2 separate regions of the Homo sapiens genome follow, and region 2 is linked to region 1. Evidence: fine-mapped expression QTL. A gene starts in region 1. The other region holds a variant in brackets. All regions are shown on one strand. Distances are between the middles of the regions. Region 1 holds the start of LCP1 (lymphocyte cytosolic protein 1). Region 2 overlaps LCP1 (lymphocyte cytosolic protein 1).

The links.
Region 2: its variant is fine-mapped to the expression of LCP1 in whole blood (INTERVAL, PIP 0.94).

What each region holds. Positions count from the first base shown.
Region 1 is chr13:46,178,239-46,187,671 of GRCh38, reverse strand. LCP1 (lymphocyte cytosolic protein 1) reads left to right here and starts at 5,495. Exons shown (of 16, transcript NM_002298.5): 1 at 5,495-5,561. RefSeq lists an enhancer at 5,403-5,832.
Region 2 is chr13:46,146,023-46,155,455 of GRCh38, reverse strand. LCP1 (lymphocyte cytosolic protein 1) reads left to right here. Exons shown (of 16, transcript NM_002298.5): 6 at 570-651; 7 at 2,511-2,676; 8 at 4,378-4,520; 9 at 7,009-7,104; 10 at 8,353-8,548. Among named protein-coding and RNA genes, the nearest start is that of LCP1, 31 kb to the left of the region's middle. RefSeq lists an enhancer at 4,261-5,460. The variant A/G (reference allele first, on the strand shown) is at 5,997.

The sequences.
Region 1 (9,433 bases):
CCAAATTCTGAGAAAATGATTTCCAGTGTGGATTTCAAAGAATGGAGATCGTTTTCAGCTATAAAATGTCTCAAGAAATTTACGTTCCATAGAACGTTTCTCAAGAATCTACTAGAGGATATGCTCATTAAAACAAGGAAGTAGACAAAGAAAGTGGATGGCATGTGGTCCAGAAATAGGAGATTCAGCCTAGATGGAGAATAAAGGAGTCCCCAGAGTGATGAGGTAGGGAAGCTTCTAGAAGGCAGCTGGGCAGCAGGACCGAACAGAGGAAGGGCCTCTCCAAGGGGGAAACAAGGAATGGATTCATTTCTTGATGTTTTAAATTGAATTTTAGCTCTGTTGGAGAGTTTATACAGAATTAGTAATAAGTACGTAGAAACCTAGCATATCAAAAAAAGATACAAAAACATAATGCAAAATATTCCTAACTCAGTTATGAATATTTTGAGTTACTGTAAAAGCTGAGTATTGATTTAAATAAAAGGGTATTATAAACTGTTCTGGAGGATGATGGGAAGGTTAACATGTATATGTTGGACTGGGGGATGTGAGAGGGTCAAATATTTATCTCTCAAGTAGGAAGGAAAAAATATATGAACATATATATACATATACATAAATATATGTAGGTATCTGAACCCAATCAAGATACACCATAAGCATAACATCTAGAAATATGTAATAAAATAACAGAAGAATTAGCTAAAACTGTTCAAAATACTTGGTTCTAGGGAATGGGAATCAGAGGTGAAGGAGTGTGTCGGGAGACTGGTGTTTCATGAGAAGCCTTGAGGTAATATTTGACTTCTAAAACCAAATACATATATTACTTTGATTAATAAATTAAAGAAAACATATGTCCACACGCACAAAATGTACACAAATGTTAATTGCAGCATTTTTATAATATCAAATAGTAGGCAGCATCCAAATATCCATCAGCTGATGAGTAAATAAAATGTGATATATTCATACAGTGGAATAGCATTCTTCCATAAAAAGGAGTGAAGGTCAGGTGCAGTGGCTCATGTCTGTAATCCCAGCACTTTGGGAGGCCGAGGCAAGAGGATCACCTGAGCCCAGGAATTCGAGACCGGCCTGGCCAACATGACAAGACCCTGTCTCTATAGAAAAAAAAAAAATTTAAATATCCAGGTGTGATGGTGCGTGCCTGTAGACCCAGCTACTCAGGAAGCTGAGGCGGGAGGATGGCTTGAGCCTAGGAGTTCAAGGCCTCAGCAAGCTATAATCACACCACTGCACTTCAGCCTGGGCGACAGAGTGAGCCCCTATCTCAAAATAAATGAATAAATAATAAAATGAAGTAGTGACATGTTACAACATGGATGGACCTTGAAAACATGCTAAGTGAAAGAAGCTCGTCACAAAAGAGCATGTATTGTGTAATTCCCTTTATATGAAATGTCCCGAATAGGCAAATTTATAGAGAGAGAAAATAAACTAGTGGTTGGCTGTGGCTGGGAATTTGGGAGATGGGGGTGAATGGGGAGGAATCTCTAACAGGTACAGAGTTTCTTTTGGGGATGATGAAAATGTTCTGGAATTATATAGTGTAATTGTTGCACAACTCTGTTAAAATACAACAAACCACTGAATTGTATACTTTTTAAAGGTGAATTTTATGGTATGTAAATCATATTGCAATGAAGCCATTATTTTAAAAATTAAAGAAAAAAATTAACAATCATACCTAATTCATAGAGTTGTTGTGAGGAATAAATGAAATAATGGATGTTAGGGGTCTAGTCCAGAGCCTGACGTAAATATTAAGCGATTAGTTAACACGTACATAGGATATACTACGTGCCAGGCACTCTTCTAAGTTCTTTACATATATCAATTCACTTACCCCTTGCAACAACTGTCTAAAATAGACACTGTTCTTACCCCCATTTTATAGACTAGGAAACTGAGGCCAGTGCAAGTAACTAATTTGCCCAAGATCACACAGCTAGTACAACAGTAGAGCTGGAACTTGACCCCAGCCAGCTGGCCCAGCATCTTTACTCTTCACCACTTTGATGCTCCCTCTCTCTGCCTCCCAGGTCCCATGTCTGGGTTAGTGCTGTGTGCTCCTAGGGACGCTGCTTTTCGTCTGTTGTGCTTCCAAGTAGATAACTCTTCACTTGCCTTTTTTCCTTGTCTGTGTCTTCAACTACAGTGGACATTCTACAATGGCAAGGACTGTACCCATCTTAATTCATCTTCATTCCCTGCCCATGATATGTTGGGATGAGGGTGGGCTGCAGAGTGAAGCAAAGGTGTTTTTCTCTTCATACAAATCCCATGAGTGCATGGAGAGGAAGTGGGGAGAGCTGAAGATGCTAGCATTAAGATGCTAGAGAAACACGAGACAATTGATGGAGCAAGATATCTAAGGAAGTAGAATATTAAGAGTGAGATAGTGTTGAAACACTGACCTTGGGAAGAAAGAAGAATGCCGCTTCCATTAAGACTGAAAGAGAGGAGGAAGAGGTGGATATTGTGGAAGTAGAGAGGAAGCTCATACCAGACGACTTGGATCATCTCAGTCAAGAAGGGGCAACAGAAGAATCTTGGGCCAGGACAAAGCATAGGAGGGTGAAGTGGAAGGTTGAGGCAAGAGGAGAGAGTTTAGAATAAATACCCAACTTTTTGGGGTCTGTGATCTCTTTACTAATACAATGGACCCTTCTCCCAGAAAAAAAGTACATACACACAAAATTGTGCATTTAGTTTTAGGGGTCTATGGACTCCAGGTTGAGAATGCCTGTTCTCAAGACTTAGTAAAATTGAATAGAAGTATTTCTGAAAGTAATTTGAAGTCAAGCATCTTGACTTTTTAGCATTCCAAGTTTGTGTTTCTGTGACTTTCCTCAGCAATATTTAGAGGCCTGAGAGTAGCAGGTGATCTGATATCTGGGACTGAGGCCAGAGGCTTCAGGGCAGGAGAGGGTGGGATGAAGTCTGAGAGGGTGGTAGGGCTTAGAGGAAGGCAAAACCCAGGCCAGGAACAGGTGGCAGTGGAGGCTCATAGAGGGTGGGCTGAGAAAGGTCCACTCCGGCTTCAGGCCATAAGGGGGCGCACTGTCTGTACAGAACATAAAAACGTAAGAAAACCAAAAGTCAGTCTTCTGTTTACTAGTACTATGCTGCACAAGCAATTTAAAACACCAACAGCAAAAAAATACACTTCTCTGAAAAAGTCTTGGTCTAGGACCTAAACAATTGCCTGAAACTGGGTAGACTTACACCAATGAGAGGCAGATAAAGAGATTAAGATTGAGGGAGTAGGGCAGGGCTTGCAATGGTGCCGGCCAGGATGTGGCTGAGGGGGTGTGGGTGCCTGCCGTGGATGCTAGGGTAGAAGACGACTCTATTAACTGGGTGGCTGTAAGCAGTACCCAGGTCAATGCCTTTCATCTTCTACAACCTCGACGTTGCCTGGAATCCTAAATCTTTTTCTTCACTTAACAAACATCACCTCTGCTCAAATCTGCAACTGCTTTGATATCACACTGCCTTTTTCACCCCTCTATTATAGATGGCATTTATTTACTTACATGTTTTTTCCCCACTAGACTATACTCCTTGAGAACAGCGATTGTGTCTTATTTATTTCTGAATCACCAATTCAGACAGGCATGCAAACACTTGCTGAACCAATGCACAAATATATTTTGCTCTTCTTCATAGATTCCTCCGGCCTCAGATGACCAGGCACCACTAGATACAGAACACTGTGCTTTCCTTCTCCAAGGTAAAGGAATAAATATCTGTTCCCCTTCATGAAGTGTTACTGTTGGGCCTTTATGCCATCCTGAAGCCACCAGGATGTGGAACCAGATCAGGGAGGTCCACAGTTACAACCCCTTGTATCTGTAACACCAGCAGGACATTATCTACAGAGTCCTGCTGCAGGGCCCCGAATGAAGACAGCATTTTGCTGCTTTGTAGCGTGAGCAGTGCTGTAACAGTGATGCATGGATGTTCCTCTGGTGTCCTGAAAGAATGTAGGTGCTTCTTGAAAGCTCTCTGCAACTTATTAATTGGGAGTGATTATGCGATGGAGAAAACAGAGTCCCATCACCCCCTCAGTCTTCCCTGGGAAATCACAAGAGGGCTGATAGCTCTCTGTGAGGTGAACCGTTTCTAGAATCCCCACCGTCTCGTCCTGTTCTTCCGCCCACCCAGTTCCTCAAGATAGCCCCTGTGGGCTTCTGATGAAGTCACCACACCACTGGCTAATGAAGTAGATAAACCAGAACAGTTTGGTTTAACATTTAAGGTCAGAAACAGGAACTTTCTAGAGGAGAAATCAAAAAAGCAAAAGAAGTATAAGGGCAGCCCTCCAACCAGTCAGAATACCGTGACCACCTGAGAGGCCCGTGGCCCAGCGGACACGGACGCATGTCAACTCTGGAGCAGATATCTTCAGCGCAGCATCTGACCTGGGAGTACAGCCACATACCCTCATTCCTAAACGGCAGATTGACTACTGGAGTCACACACAGTCTCCGGGCAATGTGGAGACATGTCTAATATTTAGTCAACATAACTCAGGGTGCCACAGTCTTCACAACTGTTGTGAGCACTTGAGGATGCTCCATTTGAAGATAGGAATTTGCCCTCAAGCATCTGGGGTTTGGGTACAGAACAGAGCTTCCCCTGCCACCACCTGCTAATTTTATAAAATGTGCATTCAAAAAAAAATCCTGCCTGTAAGAAGGAATTAAGCTACCCATTTAAATATAACAGCTGCCTGTGCAATCTACTGCTGCTCTTTATAGGAAACGCTTAAATAATTGAGATACTTAATTGGGTTAAAGAGATCCCTAGCACATAGATGTTCTATAAATAAAAGAATGAGTAAATAATCTAGTAACCTTCCTTTTCATGTCCTTCACTTAAAGAGATCGTTCTGTTTTGTTTGCACCAATAAGATCACTGTTAGAGGACTCCAGAGAGGTTTGATTTCAGGTGGGGTGGGGCTTTCCCAAGGAAGTCCCTTTTCATTTGTTTCAGGTGTACTGCCACCTTTTTCCCTGGCTCTTTCACTAAAAATGAAAAATTTGTTGATCTTTGCTGTAAGTAGGTAGGCATCTGGGCTTTGCTTTTGCAACTAGAGTCAAAGAAGTCAAGTTATCAGGCTGATCTTGCCTTGCTATCTAGAATCAGAAAGGTTTAAGTAGCCCAGGGACTACTCAAAGACAGCTGGAGGAGAAAGGGAGAGAGAAAAATGCTTATAAAGAGGTGGGCAAAAGAGCGGGACCTTGTCTCAAAAAAAAAAAAAAAAAAGAGGAAGTGGTAGGAGGTGTCTGAATTTCACTGTGACCTGTTCTGTCAGGTGATTTTTGGTGGGGCGGGGACATGAAAAAAAAGTTAAAATGTCCTTATAAAGACAAAATCTTTTTCTTTCCTGGCTGATGATTTGTCATTCTAGTCACTTCCTGCCTTGTGACCACACACCCAGGCTTGACAAAGCTGTTCTGCAGATCAGAAAGAAGGGGTTCCTGGTCATACACCAGTACTACCAAGGACAGCTTTTTTCCTGCAAGGTAAATGTTCTTCATGTGTTTTTGTTGGTTTTAAGCGCTTGTGATGCACTTCGGCACTGTTTCTGTGGATTGTGGGTTTTGCCTTCAGGGGACCAGAGATCTGAGCATGTCACCTGAGACCTCTGTGATTCCTGCCACTGTCTAACTGGCCAGGACATCTGCCGCCACCTCGCGTGGCCATCCAAGATGGAGCACCTCGGCTCTCTGGGCTGGGTTCTTCTCAACTTATCTGCAGTTATCACCCCTGCCCAAAATTAAGGTTTCTTTTTCCTTTTAAAACCAAACCATGTTCTGGTTTATTTCTATTGCTCTATTTCACGGAGGCTATTTACTGTGATTTTATCTTCTTTAAAATGTTTTCAGGAAAAGCGCGTATTGATAATTTAGATTGTATGGCTTATTGGCCCAATGGGGGTAGTTTAATTTTAGTTCCTGCGGTTCTGTTTTTCTAAAAAACTTCTTTACAGTACTTTAGTGGATAAATTATCTAGAGTCATATGTTACTGAATGTGATACTGGTTATTTGAGTGATTTTTGGCGCCAAGGGTTTTTAATGGGTGTGCTTTATAACCACATGGAATTAGAGGTTTTCTCTTTTCCATTTGTTCTCTAAAAATAAAAGCAATTTGTATAATGCTTAATTGTAGTGTTTTTGTAGGATTGTCTGAATTATTTGTTATGCTTATGACCATATCAATGAATATTCACTCAAATTCTGGGAGAAAGGCTTTTATCTACAATAGAAATTTTTACACAGTTGATATGGGATATTTATTTCAGAAACTGCCCAAACATAGACACTTTGGATTTTGTAGTATAAGCTTTTACTTAATTACCACTATCACATAACACTAAGAACCATTGACAAATGATAACTATAAAAGCCATTCAGACTGGAAATGCGAACATTAATCAGGATGTTTATCAAAACCGAACTTTTCTTTTACACAGCAACTTGTTTTCTAAAATTACTCTGTCAGAACTATCAGTAAGCAAATAAAGGTGGCTTATCCACACACATCTTGATTTTGAATTTACATACATTTGTCATAAGTTTGGTTTCTATTAAGTATAATTGTTTAAAGAATGTCTGTGTAGACAAATTTGAATAGAATTAATCATTTACCTATAAATGTGAATTTCTGGAAACTGCAAAATGTGACCACCAATGTTACTTTGCACATCTCACCTGAATAGTTTCAAACAAGCAAAAATGTGAAACTGAGATAAGAGGGACTTGAACCCCGTAAAAGAACAGACTAAAAATATGTTGTGTCTTATTTTAAGTAAAACTATTAATGAGAATAAAATAAATTCGAATGTGAAGGAATGTCAGTATTTTTCTTATATTTACGAAGGAATAAAAAAGAACTATGCGAAAGTTAATTCAAAATATAAAGGTCCCCTGTTTAAAGTTAAGTTTACATTGCTAAAGCATCAACCCCATATGTTACAAAGATATTCCTCTTCATTCTAGCTCACCCCCAGGAACATCAGGGGAAAAATCTTCTAGGTCTTGCCCTTTGAACAAGCACTGCTGTGGTGGGATGGAGTTGTGCCTAGGAGGACATTTCCTTAGCAATCCCAGAGACCCTTTTCTTTGTAGCATTTAAATTTTTGTCTCTTTTGTAAATTATGCCTTGAAACAATTGGTAATTTGGGAAACAATTTCAGTGCTTTAACTTCATTTATAATTCTATCTCTGAACCCTTTGGGGAAGGGAAGACCAACAAGTAAAGTCTCATTTACTTGTTGTTAAAGTACCATTTAACTTGGAGAGGACAGGAAATTAATAATAGCACTCAATAATTATGAGCACGTAGTGTAAGCAGCTACTCTTTATGCATTACCTCGTTTAATCCTCTCAGCTACCTTTAGAGATAAGGAATGGGCTAGATAATTGAAGGAACCGGCCATAGGTCACTGGGCAGTTGGGGTGGGGGGCAGTAGATGGCCAGGATTTCAGGCTCCTACTGACTGTGTGTGTTACAGATCCTCCCTTCCAGGCCAGCATATTTTTCTCAGAGGTAGGTGATTATAGACTTTTATTACTGAAGCTAGCTAACAAGATCTTGGCACTCACAGTTTTAAGAGAGAATAAAAGAGAGAGAGCAAGAGAAAGAAGAGAGAGAGAGAGAGAAGAAAAACTTTGTAATAAATTTACAAACATTTTTATTTTTATAAATAAGAGATACCATTGCAGGTTTTATATAATAATGGGCTGAAGAACTATTTTTAAATTAATGCATAATTTTACTAAAGAATTGTGTGCCTTTACAAACTTGCCTCGACCCACTTCCCCAATCTTATTTCTTGTCACTTCCTTCTGTTCAACCTCCCACTACCCCATCCCCTCCCCCGCCACTGCTAACCCACATTTTGGTGCACCAGACCACAAGCCACCAGAAAGTTCCATTCTCTTTCACCTTTTTTCACTGCAACTGTTTCTTTAATTGCATTCTTCTTTATTTTTAAAACTTCTGATCATTTTTCAAGGCGGACTTCAAGAAACATACCCTTTTGGAGGCCTTCCCATCTTCTCCCTGCCCCCACTAAATGTTTCTTTGGTGTGCATTTGCTCAATGCTTTGATCTTGGAGTAAGTATAACATTAATCACATTGTCTTAGTTTCAAGTACTTATTTGCTGACAGACCTGAGCTCCTTCTCCATCTTTCCTGGCACATGTAGATACTAAAGGCATTTATTGAATTGAAAATTTGTCACAAGTATTTTTTTTCTCAGCTTCTTACATACGCATGAAAGACTTTGATTGTACTTATTAACTTAATATTTACTGAGTTTCCATTTATTGCTATGAATGAAGATGCAACAATAATATAATATTTTGCATTCTACCATGTTTCAGCTTTACCGAAGCCCTAGTCTCATTTTAGCTTCAAAGTATCATATAGACATTGACCTCAAGAAATTTAAAAAATTGTACAATGACTAACAAACAGGGAAAATTACAATCTCATTTTTTTAGTATAAATACATTGGTTGGGCCAAAACTTAGCTACCCTTGCCAAAACTATATACCCAATAATGGGCCTCTTTGATGACAAAGAACACAAGGGCAGTTGTTAACTTTTACTTAGTCACTTTGGATTATTCTCAGAAAATTCTCAAGTCAACTTCTCCTTGTTACCTAAAGAGTACAGGCCCTTCTGTGTATACAGGAGAGATGGCAAGCAACTTTTAAAATCAGCTTAGGTAAAATAAAATTAAGAAATCTGCTTATAAGGTTATACTTATGAAGAGTCAAACACTTATAAAATAAGATTATAAAGGCTTGGACTTTATTACTAATAGTAGATTTTATAGTAGAGTGACATTATTTCAGTTAATCTAATTTTCTTCCTAGTGTTTTTTTATCTGCTAGTTTCCCAACTTACAGATATCAAATGAAATGATACTATTTCATCTGTATACTGAACACTGCAGAAATAAACATTAGAATTAGGACACATCAAAATATAAAACTAATCAGTGTCCACAGATTTGAAGAGTTTCAAGTGTTCCTATTTTGCCAGATGGAAGCGCACTCCTTAAAAAAGTGTTAATGTTCTACAGGGTCTTCATTTTGAGGCTCTCGGAAGTCACCTCCTGATTAGATGTTGGTTTCCTAGGGATATCTCCCTATAGCTGCTGTGGCCGTGGTGTTCCCCAGATGGCATCTCCTTGTTGCTTTCCTCAGTTCCCTTCTGATCCAACTTCCTGCCTTATACTATTGACTGTTCCTGTTGTTTTGGTTTGTCAGTTTCAATGCTTACATCAGTCTGCCCAGAAATTGCATAACTGCTCCATCTTGTAAGATATCGGTGGGGGATGGGGGGGAGTGGAAGGCGCTTCAATTAATCATCCTAATAAT
Region 2 (9,433 bases), 32 kb after region 1:
TAGGTTGCCACCCAAGGCACCCCATGGTCTTCCCCCAATCTGCTAGTTTTACCTTCTAAGACCCCTGTGACTCATTGGTACTCAGCCTAGGGCACTGAGAAGGATATAAAAATGTTATCATATGATTAGCTGAAGATACAAAGTTTGGTCCTGTGTCAAATAGAAATGTAGACAATAATAAGCTCAGAATTTTGTAGACAGTCTTTTATATAATGGGGACAATTTTCATGGCTAAGAAAATAAAGTACTTATGGTAGAATTACTTTGGTTATCCACCCAGAATTTCCTAATGTGCTAAGAAAATCAGGATAATTTTGCAGCTGTTTAGGTGGGAGAATGAAGTGGGGTCCTCATTTCCAACCTCAATATATGAATGTGGCTTCAGTAGTATTCACCTTTCCCGCAGATAGTTTGAGTCTAGTCAAACGGCATAACTGATTTTATATCTAAACATCACAGATTCTGTTGCTATCTTCTTTGATTATGGTATTGCTAGAATTTAAATTCAACGTTACTGGGCTCTGTTATTCAGAAGACTGCTTTCTTTAATTTAATTGTTTCTCTTTCAGTAAAATGATCAACCTGTCAGTGCCAGACACAATTGATGAAAGAACAATCAACAAAAAGAAGCTAACCCCTTTCACCATTCAGGTATGTCTTCCCACCGTTACCATAATACAGGATTTGTTTGGCATCAATGAGCATCATAACTGCTGAGTCCGCCTTTTTCAGGGGCTCAGACATCATTCGCAAAACCCAGGCTTTGGGCTGGTGACTTGTCATACTTCAGGGATAAAGGGATACATTTCTGAGCAGCAAAGAAGGGAGACTGGTGGAGTGGTAGCAGCTGGGGCTTTGTATGTTTGTTTTGGCCACTTAGGAATAAAATTCACTTTGGCTAAAGTTTTAACTCAAGCTTTCCTTAGCAATTTATCTTTGATTTGATGCCAAATAAACAGCATTTTAGATGAAAACATAAGCCTTTCTAAGAAGCGAGGGGGTGAAAAACGGGAAGTACTCTGGCAGCCTTCATAGTAATTTTGGCCACAGCCACGAGTATAATAAATATAACTTGCTTTTATTCCATCAATTTGTTGATTAACTGGAATAGTAACCAGCAGTAAGTGTATTTCTGTGTTGTGTTCCAATATTTTAACATTATCATAATTCTTTTGCTAAGAAACCATATCTAACTTCTTAAATCATGAACGATACATTATCTCCTGTGTGGATTTAAGCAACCTTGTGTACTTTAAAAATGGAAATGGTAACCAAATTGAGAACAATGATTAAACACATATGAATGCACTTAATGTTAAATTTACTCATAATCTTGACCATATATAGAAACAGTATTTTTCACTCATCATTTAAGCACTAGAACAAGGACCCACTTTTCTTCTGATAGTTCTTTTCCTAATTCACTGGCGGCCTTTGCTTTGTTTTTAATTTGCCAATTAAAACAATTTCTATACATCTCTGACATTGATATCTCTTCCTTTTTAAACTCAAGAATAGTACATACAGAGTCTGGACTGAAAACTCCCTTGACTCTATCTCGACTATATGTGAGTTACATTACCTGCATTGTTGTTACTCATAAGAACATAGAATCTATGAGTATGTGTGTGTATACTCAGGTTCCCTAGTTATTACAGATACTCAACAAATCAACCTAGCAAAAACCATTCCATCTTTTCCAGGAATTTTAATCGTATCTATTTTTCATTTTCGTTTTCTTTTTTTTTTTTTTTGAGATGGAGTTTCACTCTTGTCGCCCAGGCTGGAGTGTGATGGCATGATCTCAGCTCACCGCAACCTCTGCCTCCTGGGTTCAAGAGATTCTCCTGCCTCAGCCTCCCGAGTGGCTGGGATTACAGGCACCTGCCACCATGCCCAGCTAATTTTTGTATTTTTAGTAGAGATGGGGTTTCACCATGTTGGTCAGGCTGGTCTCAAACTCCTGACCTTAGGTGATCCACCCGCCTTGACCTCTCAAAGTGCCGGGATTATGGGCATGAGCCACCGTGCCAGCCTTTTCATTTTCTTAACACCCAATCTTCAAGTCAAAAAGCTCTTCTGCTACTCTCTTTTATGATCTTGATTTACATCAACAATTGTCTTATTCATGATGGCCAGTGACAGGACAATGACTTTCTCAAAGGTGTCCCTTTATTTTTGGCCAATAGAGATGTTTTGTGTGTCAGCTTCATCACAGAGCAAGATGGAAAAATATAGGCCTCATCAGTCTCATGCCAACCAGAATGGGCCTTCAACTTATGGTGCTGGTTTGATTGAATGGACCACTGCATGAGTGGTCGGTGTCTGGGTTACTGGATTTTCTCTTCTGGTTATGAGTCACTGTTTTTTTCTCAATGTTAAAATGAGTGAAGACCATGACTCTAAACCTGTGACCTTCGCAGAAGGAAAACATTGTTACTGTTGCCATCGGTATTATTTGGCATCTACAAAGTCATAGAACAAAAACTTGCATACATTTTCTCCCTCAGGAAAATCTGAACTTGGCTCTGAACTCTGCCTCAGCCATCGGGTGCCATGTGGTCAACATAGGGGCTGAGGACCTGAAGGAGGGGAAGCCTTATCTGGTCCTGGGACTTCTGTGGCAAGTCATCAAGATTGGGTTGTTTGCTGACATTGAACTCAGCAGAAATGAAGGTAAGAGCAAGTCCCAAAGGTCATTTATGACACAGCTTTCTAATAACTTACGCGTTGGGGACTGTAGGAGGAAGATGTCAGAAATTCTCAAGTTTTGAAAACTACACAGTTATATTGATTCCATGGTATTCATGTCACAGATTCTATACACACAGACCAGACGTTTTTTAATGATAGAGCAAAAGCTTTTTAAGACCATAGACTAACAATAATGTTTGTTTGGAGCATAGGGCTCAGTCTTGAATGTTTGGCACTCTAACCTCAAGAGGTTTTTTCAGAGCTCACTTTGCCTTTAGATATTTGTAACAAATAAGAGGACTTTTAACTTGCACTTTGCGAAGTAAGCAACTCACATTCATATACTATAGTGAAGGTACCAGATTAGGAGGAACTTGGTCTATTTCTTATCAAAACTATAGAGGAAGGTATAGGTCAAAGGGTTCAAGGTTGCAATTATATGGGATGAATAAGTGGAGATCTAAACAGCACGAGGGCTATAGTTAATAATATTGTGCTGTATACTGGTAATTTGCCAAGAAAGTAGATTTCAGGCACTCTTCCTACAAAAAAGAAAGAAAGAAAGAGATAGAGAGAGAAATGAAGAAAGAAAGAAAGAAAAAGAAAGGTAACGATATGAGATGTGAGTATGTTAATTTGCTTGACCAACAGTAACCACCTTACTGTGTATGTGTCTACCAAGATAAGTATACCAAAACATCACGTTACACACCTTAAATCTATGCAGGCTAGAATAAACATTTTTAAAGACCGTAGAAAATTCCATTTAGGGTTTCAGAGTTCTCAACTAAATATGTAGCTGTCAATCTTATTGCGTCTTCTCTCACCATCTTATCTGTATGTAAACAGTGACAGCCCCCTGGCTTAGACAGAGGTAGCCCACCTTGATAAGTATCATGCAAAACACGATGTTATCTTTTAGTTATCAGGTACAAATCCTACCAATATGAAATCTGTAGTCAAGTTCTAATCTTTAGTTATACATACTTTTTTATTTATATGTCCAAATCACAATAACCAATGAAAAATCCTGAAATATTATTTAAAAACCAATGTATTAAACATAATATAAAGAAGGCGGGGGAGAGGAAATAGGGATCTTAGAACCTGTGAGAAAGAATATTGATCTTCAAATAATGACCTCAGCTAAATTTAAACCTTCTAGCTGAGCAAAAAAATACTTACTCATCTGGGAAAACGTAGAGGAGAGTTGATTACATTGTTGAGTTGCTATAATTAGGCAGGTAAGCACTTGAAATATAAAACACCTATGGGAATAGACAAGAGAACATTGTTATTATTACAAAATTGATCTCTTAAAAGCAAAAATGTTGTCATATTGTGAAATGTGGTTTGACAGACCCAGCAAAACATCCGAGCCAGTAGCCTTGGTTATTTTTATGGCTCTGCCCAAATGTTCTTAAACATAGCGTTGAGATTCACTGTGCTTTGTTTTCTCCATCTGGAAAATGGAGATAATAAATAAGCTCACAATGGCTTACGCCTCTTTTTAGGGAATAATAATAAAATATTTAATCCATGGGAAAGGCTACAAGAACCTTTACCCCAAAGAGGTAACGTTGTTATCTTTAGCTTTTTAGCAGAGCTTAATGAAAGTTATAACCAACCCCCCTCCCCCAACATCGCTGCATTTATTTTTCTGTGGTTTTTGTGCTTCTTCAGCTCTGATTGCTCTTTTGAGAGAAGGTGAGAGCCTGGAGGATTTGATGAAACTCTCCCCTGAAGAGCTCTTGCTGAGGTGGGCTAATTACCACCTGGAAAATGCAGGCTGCAACAAAATTGGCAACTTCAGTACTGACATCAAGGTAGGAGGAGCGTTGTTTGAACATGACTCTCTGCAGGAGTGAAGGGGAATTTGGGCAATAATAAAGAAAAGATAAAGATTTGGGGCTTCCTCTCTTCAGAAGTTCCAGGGTAGTCTGGTGCTGTTTTGGAGGTGCTCACTGTCCTTGAGAGCCCATCTGCTGCTCTAGTCCTGGGCCATACACAGACCTGCCCAGAGTCCTAGTGCAGTGTCTCGATTGGAGTTTCCATATCAGGAAGTAGAGGGACAAAGGTGAGCTAGAGGAAGAGCAAGAGAACAGTCTGCTGTCCAAGTAAAGGGAATATATGTAGGTCTGTAATGTCTCTGGTTTCATAAATGGGAGCAGCAGATGGGAATTCCCTGTAAAAAATTAAATGAAGATGACTCTTCTAGTTATACTAATAACAGCAAACATGGTGTCTGCAACATGCCAGGCACTGTTCTAACTGATTTATATGTGTATTCTCTTATTGAATCCTTACAACAACCCCATGAGGTAAGGGTTATTATCCTCTCATTTTACAGATAAAGAGACAAAGAGGTCCATAGGGGAAAGGCTGAGGCAGGAATACACTGTGGTTTTCAAGTATATGAAAAGTTCCCTGTCAAGGTGAAAGAAAACAGCTATTGGCAATGATGACAGATGGATGAAGATAGAAAGTGGTTAAGGAGCAGAAAGGAATGGAAAGCGGTCCCTAGAAGGAAAGAGTAGGAGATGCTGGGATGCAACACCAGGAAAATACTTCAGTCTCCACTTTCTCAAACATTAAATAACTTTTCCCCAAAGAGAAAGAGTCAGAGGAAAGTTCACATGACTCAACAGGAGTACACCTAGGCTTGTAATTCTTTGAGTAACAGTTTCCCACTGCTATATGACGTGCATTCAGTGGCATTTAGAACTCAGCGTGTGTCAGGCACTGTGCCAGTCAGAGTCAAGCTTCTAGATGGAAAGCCCCCATTTTTTAGGATCTAAGCTAAATCCATCTTTCTAACTATGCATCTTTCATGGGCTATTAACATTCTTCTAGCACCACCAACCGACCTGGGTTTTAACAGGAGCTGGCTGTCATGCTCTCCCTTTGTGCTCAACAGTTAAGCTCTGCAATTGCAAAACTTTTCAGACAAAATTAGGCTGTCAGATCTCAGCTGTAAATTTACCTAATTTCCTGTCATTAAATGGCTGTGTTCTCTAGAACCACCATTTTGTGCTTTGGGAAGTGTCTGTATGAGATAGGAGCTGGCCAGATGAGCACTTACTTATACAGTGTTGTGCCTGTTCTCTGGCAGCCGCTGCATGGCAACTGACTCCGTGCTGTCATGTGTATGTCTGAGTAGCCAGCCAGCAACCTTGGGAGATGTCTTTAAATCGTGTAAATTGGCAAAGGCGAGGAGAACACCCAGGCTAGAGTGAGTGAGAAGGTTCATGAGAGTCAGGTGAAATGAGGTTACTCTTAGCCAAACTAAAAAGATGTAACCC[A/G]GGGCAGGCAGATGGTATTGGTGCCTGACACCTGCATGTGACTTTCACTGACTTCAAAATAGCTACAGTGAAAAGTCAGAGAAGGGAGGGTAGATAGAAGGGAGATGAAGATCATTTTCCCCAGGTGCAACATCAATGATTCACACTCTCTGGTTCTCCTCTTTCTAATGCCAAAAGTGGTGAGCATACCTCTCCTCTGCCCAGGCCTTACCTACCCTAACCAGTTGTAGAAACAAAATAATAGCTGATTTTTCGATCTTTATGAGAAATTGAGATGCTATTAAATGATTTAAATAAACTACCTGAAAATCTGTATGCTTTCATTGACTAAGAATAAATTTATATTTTAAGACTATAATTCTGAGAATTCTTTTTGTCAATAAGCATATTTTCAGAATCTAAGAAAACTTGAGAATTCAATACCTGTATCTAATCTGCTATAACTAAATTGAACCATTTTTCTAGCTTCTAGATAAATATGAAATGCACTTTTCTTAATATTTCTCCTTTTACGTAAAGATTGCTTGTTAATGCTTCAATCTTCTGTCTTTGACATCTTTTTCTCTTGCTGATTGTCCATTTAAATGTATTTTAAACTCGCTTTAAACTTGTGCTTCCTTTTTCTGTCACTTTTTTTTAATTAAACCTTAGCTGACTGACTTCTACAGCAATATAAAGGTATATATATATTTTCCTGTATACAATTTAATTCATGTAAATAAGTTGTTTTTCTCCCCTAAAGACAACAGAATAATATCCACTTCTTTAGGGTGCCTTTTGTGTATATCTTGTCTATTTTATTGTTACGCTCCTTTTAAAAAGAAAAGCAAATGTGATATGTAAAGAGACAAATAGAACATTCAAATTAGTGAATGTTTCTAGCTTTGTTAAGTTACATTCTGGAATGATAGCTGAATATGAAATAAAATGTTTGCTTTTGGGAAATCATTGTTATGCTAAGTATGTAATTAGCTGTGCTATTTTGAAATTGGAATTTCTTAATTTCTCACAGGACTCAAAAGCTTATTACCACCTGCTTGAGCAGGTGGCTCCAAAAGGAGATGAAGAAGGTGTTCCTGCTGTTGTTATTGACATGTCAGGACTGCGGGTAAGGCCAGGTCCCAGTTGTGTTTGGAGAATATGATGCTATTTTCATGTTGGCAGTTCCATTACCTTGTGTGGCCCTGATTCTGGAGTTCCATGACTGGGCATTTCTGCCTAAAGCCCTGTTAAAACGGTAAAACTGTGAGCAGTTTGGGATAATAATTGATGAAAACTGAATCTGGAAATACAACATTAAAGAAAGAAACCAATAGTAATTAAACACCATCCAGCATGCTAGGCAATTCTATATATGTTCATCATTTAGTAGACTCTATAACCCCACATGGGTCTGAATGTTATAATAAAACTTCTGTTTTGCCGCCACTTTAATACTGATCTTGAGAAGTCTCTTTGCCCGTTTCTGTGCCTCATTTAATATCACTGGAGTTAAATCCAATGAGTTCATGTTGAAGTCAACTGATTCCTAATGAGAAGTAGAGTAAAAGTAAATGACAAGTAAAGCTCATGAAATGCATAATGTGTAGCGTTATCTAGTAAAGGGTCATATTAAGAAATCATCCTAATTTAAAGTTTTGTTTTCTGAAAATTGGTGGTTTCATGTACTTTAAGGACAGTGGGCCATATTTCAGCAAAATTTTAGGGTTAAGAGTCACTTACAAATGGCTAGAGATTCTCTAGAATTATTTGAGCACATTGAGTGGTTCAAAATCTGAAGTCTGCAAAAATAAAATTGATATTATATATTTATCAATAATAATACATAGGTTAACTGATAAAATTTATTTTATTTGGGTTGCAAGTATACCAACTCAATGTGGAGACAGTGGTTATGCTAATCATATGTTCTTACTGGCAAGTGTAAATATCTTTTGTGAACTGGTTATGGGAATATAAATTAATAAATAAAATTTTTGATAGACAATCTCATGTCATCTGTGCACACAAATAATAAAAAGGAATCTTAATGGTTGGAAATAATTAAGATAAACTCAAATGATCAGTTTTCAGAATCTACTGCATCTCTTTTGAAACAGAGCAACCAACCACTCATCTGAAATAGTTTGATAAAGGAGATGAGAGATCCTTGTTACTTAACCTCTGAGATTCCTTTTACTTGTGACTTTCTGATTTTGGTGCAGGTGCATATAGGCAATAATGTGCTGTTATTAAGTGTCTGCCTGAGATAAACACTAATGATTTCAGTGAGATTCCCATTTCTTTTCACATTATGCAATCTGCTTTGTGCATGGAGAGCCTTGACCCAGCCCTGAGACATCCTTTTGCATTGCAGGAGAAGGATGACATCCAGAGGGCAGAATGCATGCTGCAGCAGGCGGAGAGGCTGGGCTGCCGGCAGTTTGTCACAGCCACAGATGTTGTCCGAGGGAACCCCAAGTTGAACTTGGCTTTTATTGCCAACCTCTTTAACAGATACCCTGCCCTGCACAAACCAGAGAACCAGGACATTGACTGGGGGGCTCTTGAAGGTAACTGTAAACGATTTGCCTAAGATGGGGAAAGGCACTCACAATTCTAATTCAATGGCAATTCAAACTCACTTCCTAAGCAAATATAAACTATTTACATGTGCAAACAGGCCATTAATTCTCTGGTATGCAACAAAGAGAATAAATAGATTCATCAAGTCAATTTCAGCCAAGCAGGAATAATCAAATACCATTCTATCACGTCCATTAACAAAGCGTTCATCCATTATCAGAATTAAATGTTTTAGGAAAGATAATGCATTTAGTTATTAGATGAAATAAATCCTGAGTTTCAAAAAGATAATTTACGTACTTAATGGACTGTGTTGATTCCTAGAGACAAGAAATTGCCACCATCCATTTCCAAAAAATGATATTTAAGGTATGCTGGGATATGCTTACTGAGTTTTTGGTTTTCTTTTGTTTCTTACGGGAGCCACAGAAAAGTATTTTGAGGCAGAATCCCTAACAGTTGTATTTTTCAGGTTAATGCTCTAAGATTCAACAAAAAGCATATAGCTTTAATTACGTTCTACCAGGTAGAGGTGCTGGAGATGTTTACTTGACTTTTTTAAAAAAATCATGAACTAGTCCCAATATTGAGACAAAGGTCAACTAATATTAAATGAATATCACCCAAGCAAGGAGATTCAGATTTGAAGTATGAGTTGATCCTTTTCCACAGTGCTTTACTCTCACTAGAAATGCAGCATAATCGTGCTCCAACACTCCTGCATTGGTGTCATTTGCTGAATTATGGTCAGGGGGTTGTGTGTATTTTGTTGACTCCCAAATCTATATATCAAGCCCACAAATCACCCATTTCAGCTGCTTCTAGAATATTCCTGTTTGGATCCTTGGCTATCATTTGAGGTGCAGCATATG